Homo sapiens: one gene and its partners. The protein of the gene in region 1 purifies or fractionates together with the protein of each later gene. This does not show direct contact. Each region holds a gene or a part of one and is shown in the gene's direction. Other genes may lie near its edges. The genes, in order: CT45A5, PPP4R3B and TRIM26.

Evidence for each region.
Region 2: the proteins of CT45A5 (region 1) and PPP4R3B purify together in Homo sapiens (affinity purification with mass spectrometry, with the first as the bait; one large-scale study listed by BioGRID). This does not show direct contact.
Region 3: the proteins of CT45A5 (region 1) and TRIM26 purify together in Homo sapiens (affinity purification with mass spectrometry, with the first as the bait; one large-scale study listed by BioGRID). This does not show direct contact.

Annotation. Positions count from the first base shown.
Region 1 is NC_000023.11:135,775,484-135,779,137, reverse strand, and holds the end of CT45A5 (cancer/testis antigen family 45 member A5), read left to right. Parts: intron 1-126; coding exon 127-220; intron 221-1,444; coding exon 1,445-1,502; 3' UTR 1,503-3,286; downstream 3,287-3,654.
Region 2 is NC_000002.12:55,607,613-55,611,266, reverse strand, and holds part of PPP4R3B (serine/threonine-protein phosphatase 4 regulatory subunit 3B), read left to right. Parts: intron 1-3,654. UniProt on the Homo sapiens protein: Regulatory subunit of serine/threonine-protein phosphatase 4 (PP4). May regulate the activity of PPP4C at centrosomal microtubule organizing centers.
Region 3 is NC_000006.12:30,203,290-30,206,943, reverse strand, and holds part of TRIM26 (tripartite motif-containing protein 26), read left to right. Parts: intron 1-2,178; 5' UTR 2,179-2,288; intron 2,289-3,654.

The DNA of each region.
Region 1 (3,654 bases):
CAGGTATCTTGATTTAAGCATTTAAAACATTTCAGCCTCTGAAGCATGATTGCTGAGGTGTAGATTCACTTCTATTCTTCTTTATATTTGATAATACTGAAGTTTTTTTTTTTTCAACATCTTCAGAATATGAAAAAATCTTCGAAATGCTTGAAGGAGTGCAAGGACCTACTGCAGTCAGGAAGCGATTTTTTGAATCCATCATCAAGGAAGCAGCAAGGTGGGTAGAAATAGGAACTGTCCAATTTCTTTAAGCACTTGGGCTCAATAGAGCACTGGGGGTGAGCGTTGGGGAACAGCCCCTGCCTTGCGTTTCTCAAACCCTGGTCCTCACTCACAGTTATGGCTGTCTCCACAGTTACTTAGGCTAATGTTATCTGAGTGTAACTCATTCTTCGAAGACTATGGAGACTTCCATTTTCACCATAGTCTGAGGTGCGCATTGTCCCTCAATTGACACTCTTTGTATTTGCTAGACTACCTCTTTTTAAAAAATTTGTGTAGGCACATAGCAGATGCATATATTTCTGGGCTATATGAGATATTGTGATACAGACAACAATGTGTAATAATCACATCAAGGTAAGTGGGGTTTCTATCACCTCAAGCTTTTATCCTTTGCGTTACAGAGAATACAATTATACTCTTCATTATTTTTAAATGTGCAATTAAATTATTACCGACTATAGTCACCCTGTTTGGCTATGAAATACGACATCTTATTTATTCCATACTTCTACGTATTAATCATCCCCACTTCCCACACCCTCCACCCCCACTAACCTTTGTAGCCTCTGGTAACTGTCATTCTACTCTCTATCTCCATTAGTTCAGTTGTTTTACACTTTTACTCCCAAAAATAAGTGAGAACATGTGAAGTTTGTCTTTCTGTGCCTGGCTTATTTCACTTAACATAAGGACCTTCGGTTCTATCCGTGTTGTTGCAAATGACTGAATCTCATTCTTTTTTTTATGGCTAAACAGTACTCTGTGGTGTATATGTACCATATTTTCTTTACCCATTCATGTGTTAGTGGACACTTAGGTTGCTTCCAAATCTTGGCTACTGTGGATGGTGCTGCAACAAACATGGGAGTGCAGATATCTGTTCGGTACACTGACTTCCTTTCTCTTGGGTATATACCCAGCAGTGGGATTGCTGGATCATATGATAGCTCCATTTTTAGTTGTTTGAGGAACCTCCAAACTGTTCTTCATAGTTAGTTGTTGTAGTAATTTATATTCTCACCAACAGTGTATGAAGGTTCCCTTTTCTCCACACCCTTGCCAGCATTTGTTATGCCGGCTAGACTGCCTCTTACCATGCAGATACATTTCTATTTCCATGCTGACTGTTACTTCATCTTTCTATCTGTCACAGCGCTTCCTACAGCATAGGTTCTTTGGCTATCTTTTGGTTAATGACATGTCTCTTTCTCTTCAGATGTATGAGACGAGACTTTGTTAAGCACCTTAAGAAGAAACTGAAACGTATGATTTGAGAATACTTGTCCCTGGAGGATTATCACACCCCAAATGCATAATCTCGTTAATGATTGAGGAGAGAAAAGGATCAGATTGCTGTTTTCTACAATGGAGCAGGATATTGCTGAAGTCTCCTGGCATATGTTACCGAATCAACTGGCCTTCCAGAGGCTAAGAAATTTCTGTTAGTAAAAGATGTTCTTTTTCCCAAAGCGTTTTATTTGAAAGGATAACTTGTGTTTTGGTTATTTTGTATTCCCACCTGTGCTGGTAGATATTATTAACCCATTAGGTAAATACTATTACAGTCGTGGTTTCTGCAGCAGCTCACACTGATGTAGCTGGCGTTTATAACTACCTTCTTTCGCTACCCGTTTCGCATTCCCTTTGCCCTGAGATAGCATGTCAGTTGGTCATGATGCTTGGCCTGGCAGGATGACTCAAACCTTCATTACGGAAGAGTCTGAACCATTAGATATCCTGCCTGGATGGGGTTGCTGTGATTTTCCATTAACTCTAATCGAAAAACACAGGAGGACTAAGAAGCTCTCTAGACATATCACACATACTCTTCCTTAGCCCCTCGTGTGGTGGGAACCCGATCTCAATGTTGAAATCTGTATCATCAGCCTTCAACGAAAAGGCAGAACTAATGGGAGATTTTAATGTGTGTGTGTGTGTGTGTGTGTGTGTGTGTGTGTGTGTGTGTTGGTAGGGGGTATATATACATGCACACACACACTTTCTAATCTCCCATTATACATATAATACACATTACACATATTATATATACACCCCCATATATATATATGTATGCGTGTGTGGGGGGGTATATCCAATATATATAATAAAGGTAGTTCCTAGATAGGATTGGTCTGATACAATAATTTGGAGCTGCAGTAGCAGTCCCTGTAAGGCTGTTGTTTCCAGATACGACTTGAACGTTCTATGCTTTTTATTTTTTTTAAAGACAGAATCTTGCTCTGTTGCCCAGGCTAGAGTGCGGTGACACGATCACAAGTCACTGCCACCTCGACCTCACCCCAGTTCAAGCGATCCTTGTGCTTCAGCCTTCGAAGTAGCTGGGATTACAGGTGCACCACAGGTGCCATCACGCTGCAATTTTTGTATTTTTAGTGGAGATGGGGTTTTGCCATGTTGTCCAGGCTGGTCTCGAAACCTGGCCTCAAGTGATCTGCCCATCTCAGCCTCCCAAGGTTCTAGGATTACAGGCATGAGCCACTGCACCCAGCCCATTCTATGCTTTTTTTAAAAAAATTAATTCATTCAATTATTCAACAAATATTAATTGTGCCAGGTACTTTTTTTTATTATACTTTAAGGTTTAGGGTACATGTGCACAACGTGCAGGTTTGTTACATATGTATACATGTGCCATTTTTGTGTGCTGCACCCATTAACTCATCATTTAACATTAGGTATATCTCCTAATGCTATCCCTCCCCCCTCCCCACACCCCACAACAGGACCCAGTGTGTGATGTTCCCCTTCCTGTGTCCATGTGTTCTCATTGTTCAGTTCCCACCTATGAGGGAGAACATGCGGTGTTTGGTTTTTTGTCCTTGCGATAGTTTGCTGAGAATGATGGTTTCCAGCTTCATCCATGTCCCTACAAAGGACATGAACTCATCATTTTTCATGGCTGCATAGTATTCCATGGTGTATATGTGCCACGTTTTCTTAATCCAGTCTATCATTGTTGGACATTTGGGTTGGTTCCAAGTCTTTGCTATTGTGAATAGTGCCACAATAAACATACGTGTGCATGTGTCTTTATAGCACCATGTTTTATAATCCTTTGGGTATATACTCAGTAATGGGATGGCTGGGTCAAATGGTATTTCTAGTTCTAGATCCCTGAGGAATCGCCACACTGACTTCCACAATGGTTGAACTAGTTTACAGTCCCACCAACAGTGTAAAAGTGTTCCTATTTGTCCACATCCTCTCCAGCACCTGTTGTTTCCTGACTTTTTAATGATTGCCATTCTAACTGGTGTGAGATGGTATCTCATTGTGGTTTTGATTTGCATTTATCTGATGGCCAGTGATGATGAGCATGTTTTCATGTGTCTGTTGGCTGCATAAATGTCTTCTTTTGAGAAGTATCTGTTCATATCCTTCGCCCGCTTGTTGATGGGGTTGTTT
Region 2 (3,654 bases), on another chromosome or scaffold:
TCACTTAAGGCCAGGAGTTTGAGGCTGTAGGGTGCTATGATTGTGCCTGTGCGTAGCCATTGCACCCCAGCCTGGGCAACATATCTTAATAAAAAACAAGAGTCATACTAGGCACAGTGGCTCACACTTGTAATCTCAACACTTTGGGAGGCTGAGGCAGGAGGATCACTTTAGTCCAGGAGTTCAAGACCAGCCTGGGCAACATACTGAGACTCTCACTGCAAAAAATATAAATTAGCTGGGCATGGTGACACACACCTGTAGTCCCAGCTGCTTGGGAATCTGAGGTGGGAGAATTGCTTGAGCCCAGGAGGTCAGTGCTTCAGTGAGCTGTTACTGTGCTACCGCACTCCAGCCTGGGCGATAGAGGAAGACTCTCTCAAAAAAAAAAAAAAAACCAGAGTCATAAGAATGTGTACCTATTTAACACAATTGTGTGTTAATTGGGTTTAAGAAAATCCTCATTGCAGTTTTATTTGGAGGCAGGATGTAACAGATGAAACAGATAAAGAATGATAATAAGATAGCTTATAACAGTGTTTTACCACAGTCTTCACTGAAAGCCCGTGAAAGCATTTCACACATGAGGCAACAAAGGTACAGAAAGGGTAAGATTCTTGACTGAGATTATACAGCAGGTATGTGCCAACACAAAATATAAAAAGTAAACTTGCATTTTCCACAGACTTAGAGCAGTAGAAAATTAAGGAAGAGGTTAATATAAGCTGGAATCATTAAGAAAAACTTCATTCTTGGTGGTGGTAGTGGAAGGAACTGTGATAGGAAAGGAAATACACTTGCTACAAAAGGTATTAAGCCTATTTGTAGCAGTGGTTTCTCCCCCTCCTACCACCAATCCCAAATATGATAATACACAGGTTCAGAAGGGGACATTACAGGTTCTTGAGTAGGGGCCTAAAGTGATACTGTGTTTAAAGAAATGAGTGTGGCAATGTCATGAATAATAAATTGGGGAGGAGGGATAGGGTGGAGCAGAAGATCTTTGAGTAGCAAGACCTTTTGCAATAATTCAGATACAAAAAATGAAAGTCTATTCCACCACGGTAAATGGACTTGAAGGAACAGAGCTCCAGTATATTTTCCAGAAAGTGCTGGAAAATTTAGTAAATGATTAAATATTAAAGAGAAGGAATCAAAGGTCACTGATAGTGTTTTTGAGTCTGGCCAGGAAGGTGATGGTTCTTTCCAGAAAGTGGGAAGTTAAGCAGGTTTACATTAATCTTTTGGTTTGAGGCTTATTAAAAAAAATTTTTTTTAGTGTGTAATATATTAGCCCAGTTAAAAATTCAAAAGGTATTTATTGAAGTCTCTTTCCCACGCCAGATTCTGTCCGTACAGTTTCCCTTGCTAGAGGCCACTGACATCACCAGTTTCTTATATATCTTGCTGGAGGTATGCATATGTAAGCAAATATGCATACAATTGTATGTATTTTTTCCCTTTTATTGGTATAACTGGTAGCATACTGTATACTGTTTTGTGCTTTGCTTTTTTTTTCTTTTCCATCCGGGCTTTGAAGTTACATACAGTAAAATAAATGGAAAGAGTTTTTTTGTTTTTTTTGTTTTTTTTTTTTTTGAGACACAGTCTTGCTTTGTTGCCGAGGCTGGAGTGCAGTGGCGTGATCATGGCTTACTGCAGCTTTAACTTCCTGCGCTCAGGCTCCCACCTCAGCCTCCTGAGTAGCTGGGACTGTAGGTGTGCACACCATGCCTGGCTAATTTTTTGTAGATATGGGATTATGCCATGTTGCTCAGGCTGGTCTTGAACTCCTGAGCTCAAGCAGCCCACCTATCTTGGCCTTCCAAAGTGCTGGGAATACAGACATGAGTCGTCACACCCAGCCCATGAAAAGGTCTTAAAATGAACATCTGGGAATAGAGATAGGGTGAGACTTTCCGGCAGGAGATTCTAATTTAAGAATCATAAAAGGCCTAGCATGCCAGTAGTAGTCCCAGCTTTTCGGGGCTGAGGCAGGAGGATCACTTGAGACCAGGAGTTTGAGGCTATAGTTCGTGATGATCACACCTGTGAATAGCCAACTGCACTCCAGCCTTTTAAAAAAAAAAATCAGATGAATTATGAATTTTTAGCTACAAGGTAACCTCCTTTGAGGTAATAGCTATAAATTGAGAAAAGAACAGAGCTCAAGACTGAGTCTTGTTGATCTGACCACATATATTCATTCATCCAGAAATACCTCATCGAGTGCTGCTTCTGGCTGGTCACTATCTTTTCGTTTGGAATTTTTTTGGAGGCAGGGCGGTGGTTTTGAGATGAGACTGTCTCCCAGCCAAAAGCACGGTGGCATGATTAAGTCTCACGCAGCCTTGACCTCCTAGGTGCGATCCTCCCACCTCAGCCTTCTGAGTAGCTGGGACTGCAGGCGCATACCACCATACCTGGCTAATTTTTTTAATGTTTAGTAGAGATGAGGTCTCACTATGATGCCCAGGCTGGTTTCAAACTCCTGCGCTTAACAATTCTCCCTCTTTGGGCTCCAAAAGTGCTGGGATTACAGGCATGAGCCTCCATATCCAGCCAAGTTGGGATTTTTAAAGTAAGCTTTTGAAGAGTTTATGCAAAGTGATGACATGATCCAAAATACTTAATAGTATCAATCTGTGGAATTGAAGAGAAGCAATAAGTGGGAAACTCATTGGGAGATTGCTGCATAGTCCAAGCAAAAGATAATGTTGGATTGGATTGAGGTGATAGAGATGGACAGAGATGGATGGATTTTGTGATCTTTATTGAAGGTAGAATTGACAGGGCATGTGATGGATCAGTTATTGGTAATCAGGAAGAAGAAAGATCAGTAACCGTTGACTGTTTCCCAGGGTCAGTCCTCAGCATTGGAAAAGAACTCTAAATATAAACCCCATTTAGTTTCTGGTATTTTGACAAGATCAGAGAAAAGAATTTAAAGTTAAGAATGAGGGGCTGGGTGCAGTGGCTCCCACCTGTAATCCCAGCACTTTGGGAGCCCAAGGCTGGCAGATCACCTGAGGTCGGGGGTTCAAGACCAGCCTGGCCAACATGGTGAAACCCTGTCTCTACTAAAAATACAAAAATTAATCCGGTGTGGTGGCACACGCCTGTAATCCCAGCTACTCAGGAGGCTGAGGCAGGAGAATCACTTGAACCCAGAGGTGGAGGTTGCAGTGAGCCAAGATTGCACCACTGCATTCCAACCTGGGCAACAGAGTGAGACTCTGTATCAAAAAAAAGAAGAGCAAAAGAAAGTGATGATGAAAAGGTGCTCAGTTACCTTAATTCAGATTTCGTTGTTTACCTGGACCTTCTCTTTCAATGTTTACCTGGACCAAACATTGATTGTAGCCAAAATGGAAAAGGCATTGGATGGCTGGATAAAGGGTTTTGGATTTCATTCTGTTAGTAATATCCATTGACCTGACTGTAGATAGTACTATCTATAGATCTAGTCACCAGAAGGACCAAGGCATGGTTAGAAGATTGCGGCTTTGAACCCCATCCGCCATCCTCCAGAAGGGGAGAGGGGCTGAGGGTTTATTAATCACCAGTCGCCAGTGATTTACTTAATTATACCTGTTTAATGAAGCCTCCATAAAAGCCCATTAGGACTGGGTTTGGAGAGCTCCCAGATAACTA
Region 3 (3,654 bases), on another chromosome or scaffold:
CACCTCACCCCACCTCGTGCTAGTGCTGGCCTTGCTGCCAGCCAGCTCTGCTGCTGGGCAAATGAGTCCGAGGCTCTGGCACTCACTGTCCTCCTCTGTAAATAAGGGGTTCTAGTGATTCACAGTCCTGGATAGACTTTAGAATCTCCTGGGAAGTTTGTTTTTTAATACCAGAGCCTGGGCCACCTCTGGAGATCCTAAGTCAGTTGGTCTAGGTATGTTTTGAAGACTCACCAGTTTGAAGACTACAAATCTGATGTGTAGTCAAGGTTTGAACCATTCCACAAGATGATAAAGGATTCCTTCCTATATTTGGTGCAAAGCACCAAGTGACACTTAGGAATATTTTAGACAAGAGAGCTTGGTTCATGATTCAACATTAGACAGATATTCTGGCACAAATATGAAGAACCCTCAATTTTCCCCTGTGGGTCAGCCACAAGACCAGGGCAATTTAACGCCTTGTCTCATCCACCTCCCAGCTGGCTGCTACCTCCTGCCCCTCTTTGAGCCCTGTGGGGATTTCTAGCGTTCAGAGCCCTGGTAGTTTTTGTGGCCTGCACTGTGCTTCAGAGCACCACTGATGCTCGGCTCCGTGGGGAAAGTAAGCCAAGTGTGACCACAAGAACGCATCATCCACAGTCACTGGGATCTCCTGGGACAGCCTGGGATCCAGGCCTTTGGCCTGGCCAGTAGGGGTGCAGTCACTCCTAGTATGCACATCCAGATCACTTGCTTTTTGCCCCGAATTCTGGCCTCTCCAGGTTTGTTAGAGGTGTCTCACGGAAGTTTACCCCATGGAGAGTTTGCTTATCTCAGATTAAAATATGGGGATTAATCTGGGACCCAGGAGCCCTTAAATGGAGTACCCACAGGGAATGGAGCTCTAGGCTAAGTGCTTTGGGATTACAGGTGCTTTGCTCTTGTTTGGAGGTCCAGACATATGCTTGAGAAGCAGCTTGGGATACTCAAGAGAGGCCTGAACTGGTACCCTGGAGGCCAGGATGAAAACCCAGGCCTCTCCATTTACTTTCTTGGGCCCCAGAGTCCACATTTGGGATTCACTGTCTACCAGGGCACCTCTCTGGGTGGCATCTAGGAGCCGGAGGCAGGCCAGAGTTTCACCCAGGCTGGAGTGCAGTGGCGCAGTCATGGCTGTCTGCAGCCTCAACTTCCCGGGCTCGGGAGATCCTCCTGCCTCAACTTCCTAAGTAGCTGGAACTATAGGCATGTGCCATCGCACCCAGCTAATTCAGCTAATTTCTTTTTTTGGAGACAATGTCTCACTATATTACCCAGGCTGGTCTCAAACTCCTGGGCTCAGGCAGTCCTCCTGCCTTAGCCTCCCACAGTGCTGGAATTACAGGCACAAGCCCCCGTGCCCGGCTTTCAGCTAGTTTTTGTAGCTCATAGTGATTATTCTTGGAGCCAATAATCGTGCATGCATCCACATCTTGAAATTACATGGTGTCACCTTGACCAGTCTGTTGACATATGCAGATTAGGTATTTATGAGATCCAGAGACTTATAGGGGAGGGGTGGATTTCAGGGAAAAGGGAACCTCTTAGAGAAAGGTAGGGAGTGTCTGCAGTTCTGCCTGTGAGGAGGGTACCAGGACATTGCAGGGCTTGTTTGTTGCATCTTCCTGGTTCTATAGAATTGCAGCTAGCTTCTGGTTTATTTTTTCATTTTTATTTTTTGAGATGGAGTTTTGCTCTTGTTGCCCAGGCTGGAGTGCAATTGGCGTGATCTCAGCTCACTGCAACCTCCGCCTCCTGGGTTCAAGCGATTCTCCTGCCTCAGCCTGCCCAGTAGCTGGGATTATAGGCATGCGCCACCACACCTGGCTAATTTTGTATTGTTAGTAGAGATGGGGTTTCTCCTTGTTGGTCAGGCTGGTCTCAAACTCCCGATCTCAGGTGATCCACCCGCCTCTGCCTCCCAGAGTGCTAGGATTACAGGCAGAAGCCACCGCGCCCGGCCGCTTCTGGTTTATTGAAGAGACAGAAAAATACCCCCTCACCCCCAGCAGGGATGTGTGACCTCTGGTGCAAGGGAGTTCATGAAGTGACTTCTTCAGGTTCAGAATTCTCATCTGAGTAAAGGGAGTGGGGGTGGAGTGGGTCATCTCTGAGGTTTTTTTTTTTTGGCTCTGATTTTGGTTTCTGTCTGCCCAGGAGTCAGGAATGGAGAGAAGGGTAATGGTTTTACCTCTTATTGTGGAAACCTGTTGAGATCACAGAGAATATACTGACGGCATAAAAGGGCAGAACCATAGCAGGGTGCGGTAAGTTGGGGAAGAGTTTTTGGAGAGGGTGAATTTTGCATTGGACCTGACAGAATTGTGTATGGGGAAGGGGAGCGGTTATTCTGGTCTGCTCACATCTCTCATACTCAACCTCATTTCTCCTAATTCTGAAATCTTGAGATCCTCTATCACTAAGAAGGAAAACTACTGTCCAACAGGGACACTTTATTGCTCACCCCATATGTGAAAGTTTGTCATAGCTAAGGCTAGGGTGCTTTTGGTCAGTATCAGCAGAATATATGCCCCCTTTCTTTTGTCAGCATTACTCCGCTTACAAAGCCCTTCCATGTAGATGACCTCATCTGAGCTTCCTAACAAAGGAGCTGGTATTAGACCCCATTTTACAGTGTGCCTGGGTAGGGAAGAGAGTGTAGTGGATTGAGCAGAGGCCTTGGCACCAGACACTGCTTCCTAGCCATGTGCTCTTGGGCAAGTTGCTTAACCCTGCTGAGCCTCAGTTTCCTCAGAAGGAGTCTGTATAAGCAAGGGAAGGGATTGGTCATAGAAGTGGTACTGTGTTTCATTTATCTGGTTATGGCAGACTCTCAAAAACAAATGGTTCTATACAACTAACATTGTCTGCAATTCCCCTGAATCCATTCACTTGTTCAGTAAATGTGTATTGAGCTTCTACAAGGTGTCAAGCACCATGATCTCTGTATCAGTGATTTAACCATTTTTGATGGTTACTACAGACCTCTTTAAGAATGTGATAGAAAACTGTAGCTCCCTCCCCAGAAAACTTTTCTAGCTTTTTATTTTGCTTTGCAGTGAGCCAAGATAGTTCCACTGCACTCGGGGGACAGAGTAAGACCCTGTCTCAAAAAAAAAAAAAAGAAAGGAACCATTTCAAATTAGGTGGGAGACATGGAGCTCTAAATACTACAGCATCCATTGCCTAGAAATACAGGTATTCTCAGCCGGGCGCGGTGGCTCACACCTGTAATCCCAGCACTTTGGGAAGCCAAGGCAGGTGGATCACCTGAGGTCAGGAGTTTGAGACCAGCCTGGCCAACCTGGTGAAACCCCGTCTCTACTAAAACTACAAAAAATTAGCCGGATGTGGTGGTGGGCACCTGTAATCCCAGCTACTAGGGAGGCTGAGGCAGGAGAATCGCTTGAACCTGGCAAGCGAAGGTTGTAGTGAGCCAGATTGCGCCATTGCACTCCAGCCTGGGCAACAAGAGAAAAACTCCATCTCAAAAATAAATAAATATATTAATAAATAAATAAGAAGTATAGGCATTCTCATACATAACCTCAGTAAATACCATTAAGAAAATAATTTTAGACATGGTGCAGTTGCTCATGCCTATAATCCCAGCACTTTGGGAGGCTGAGGTGG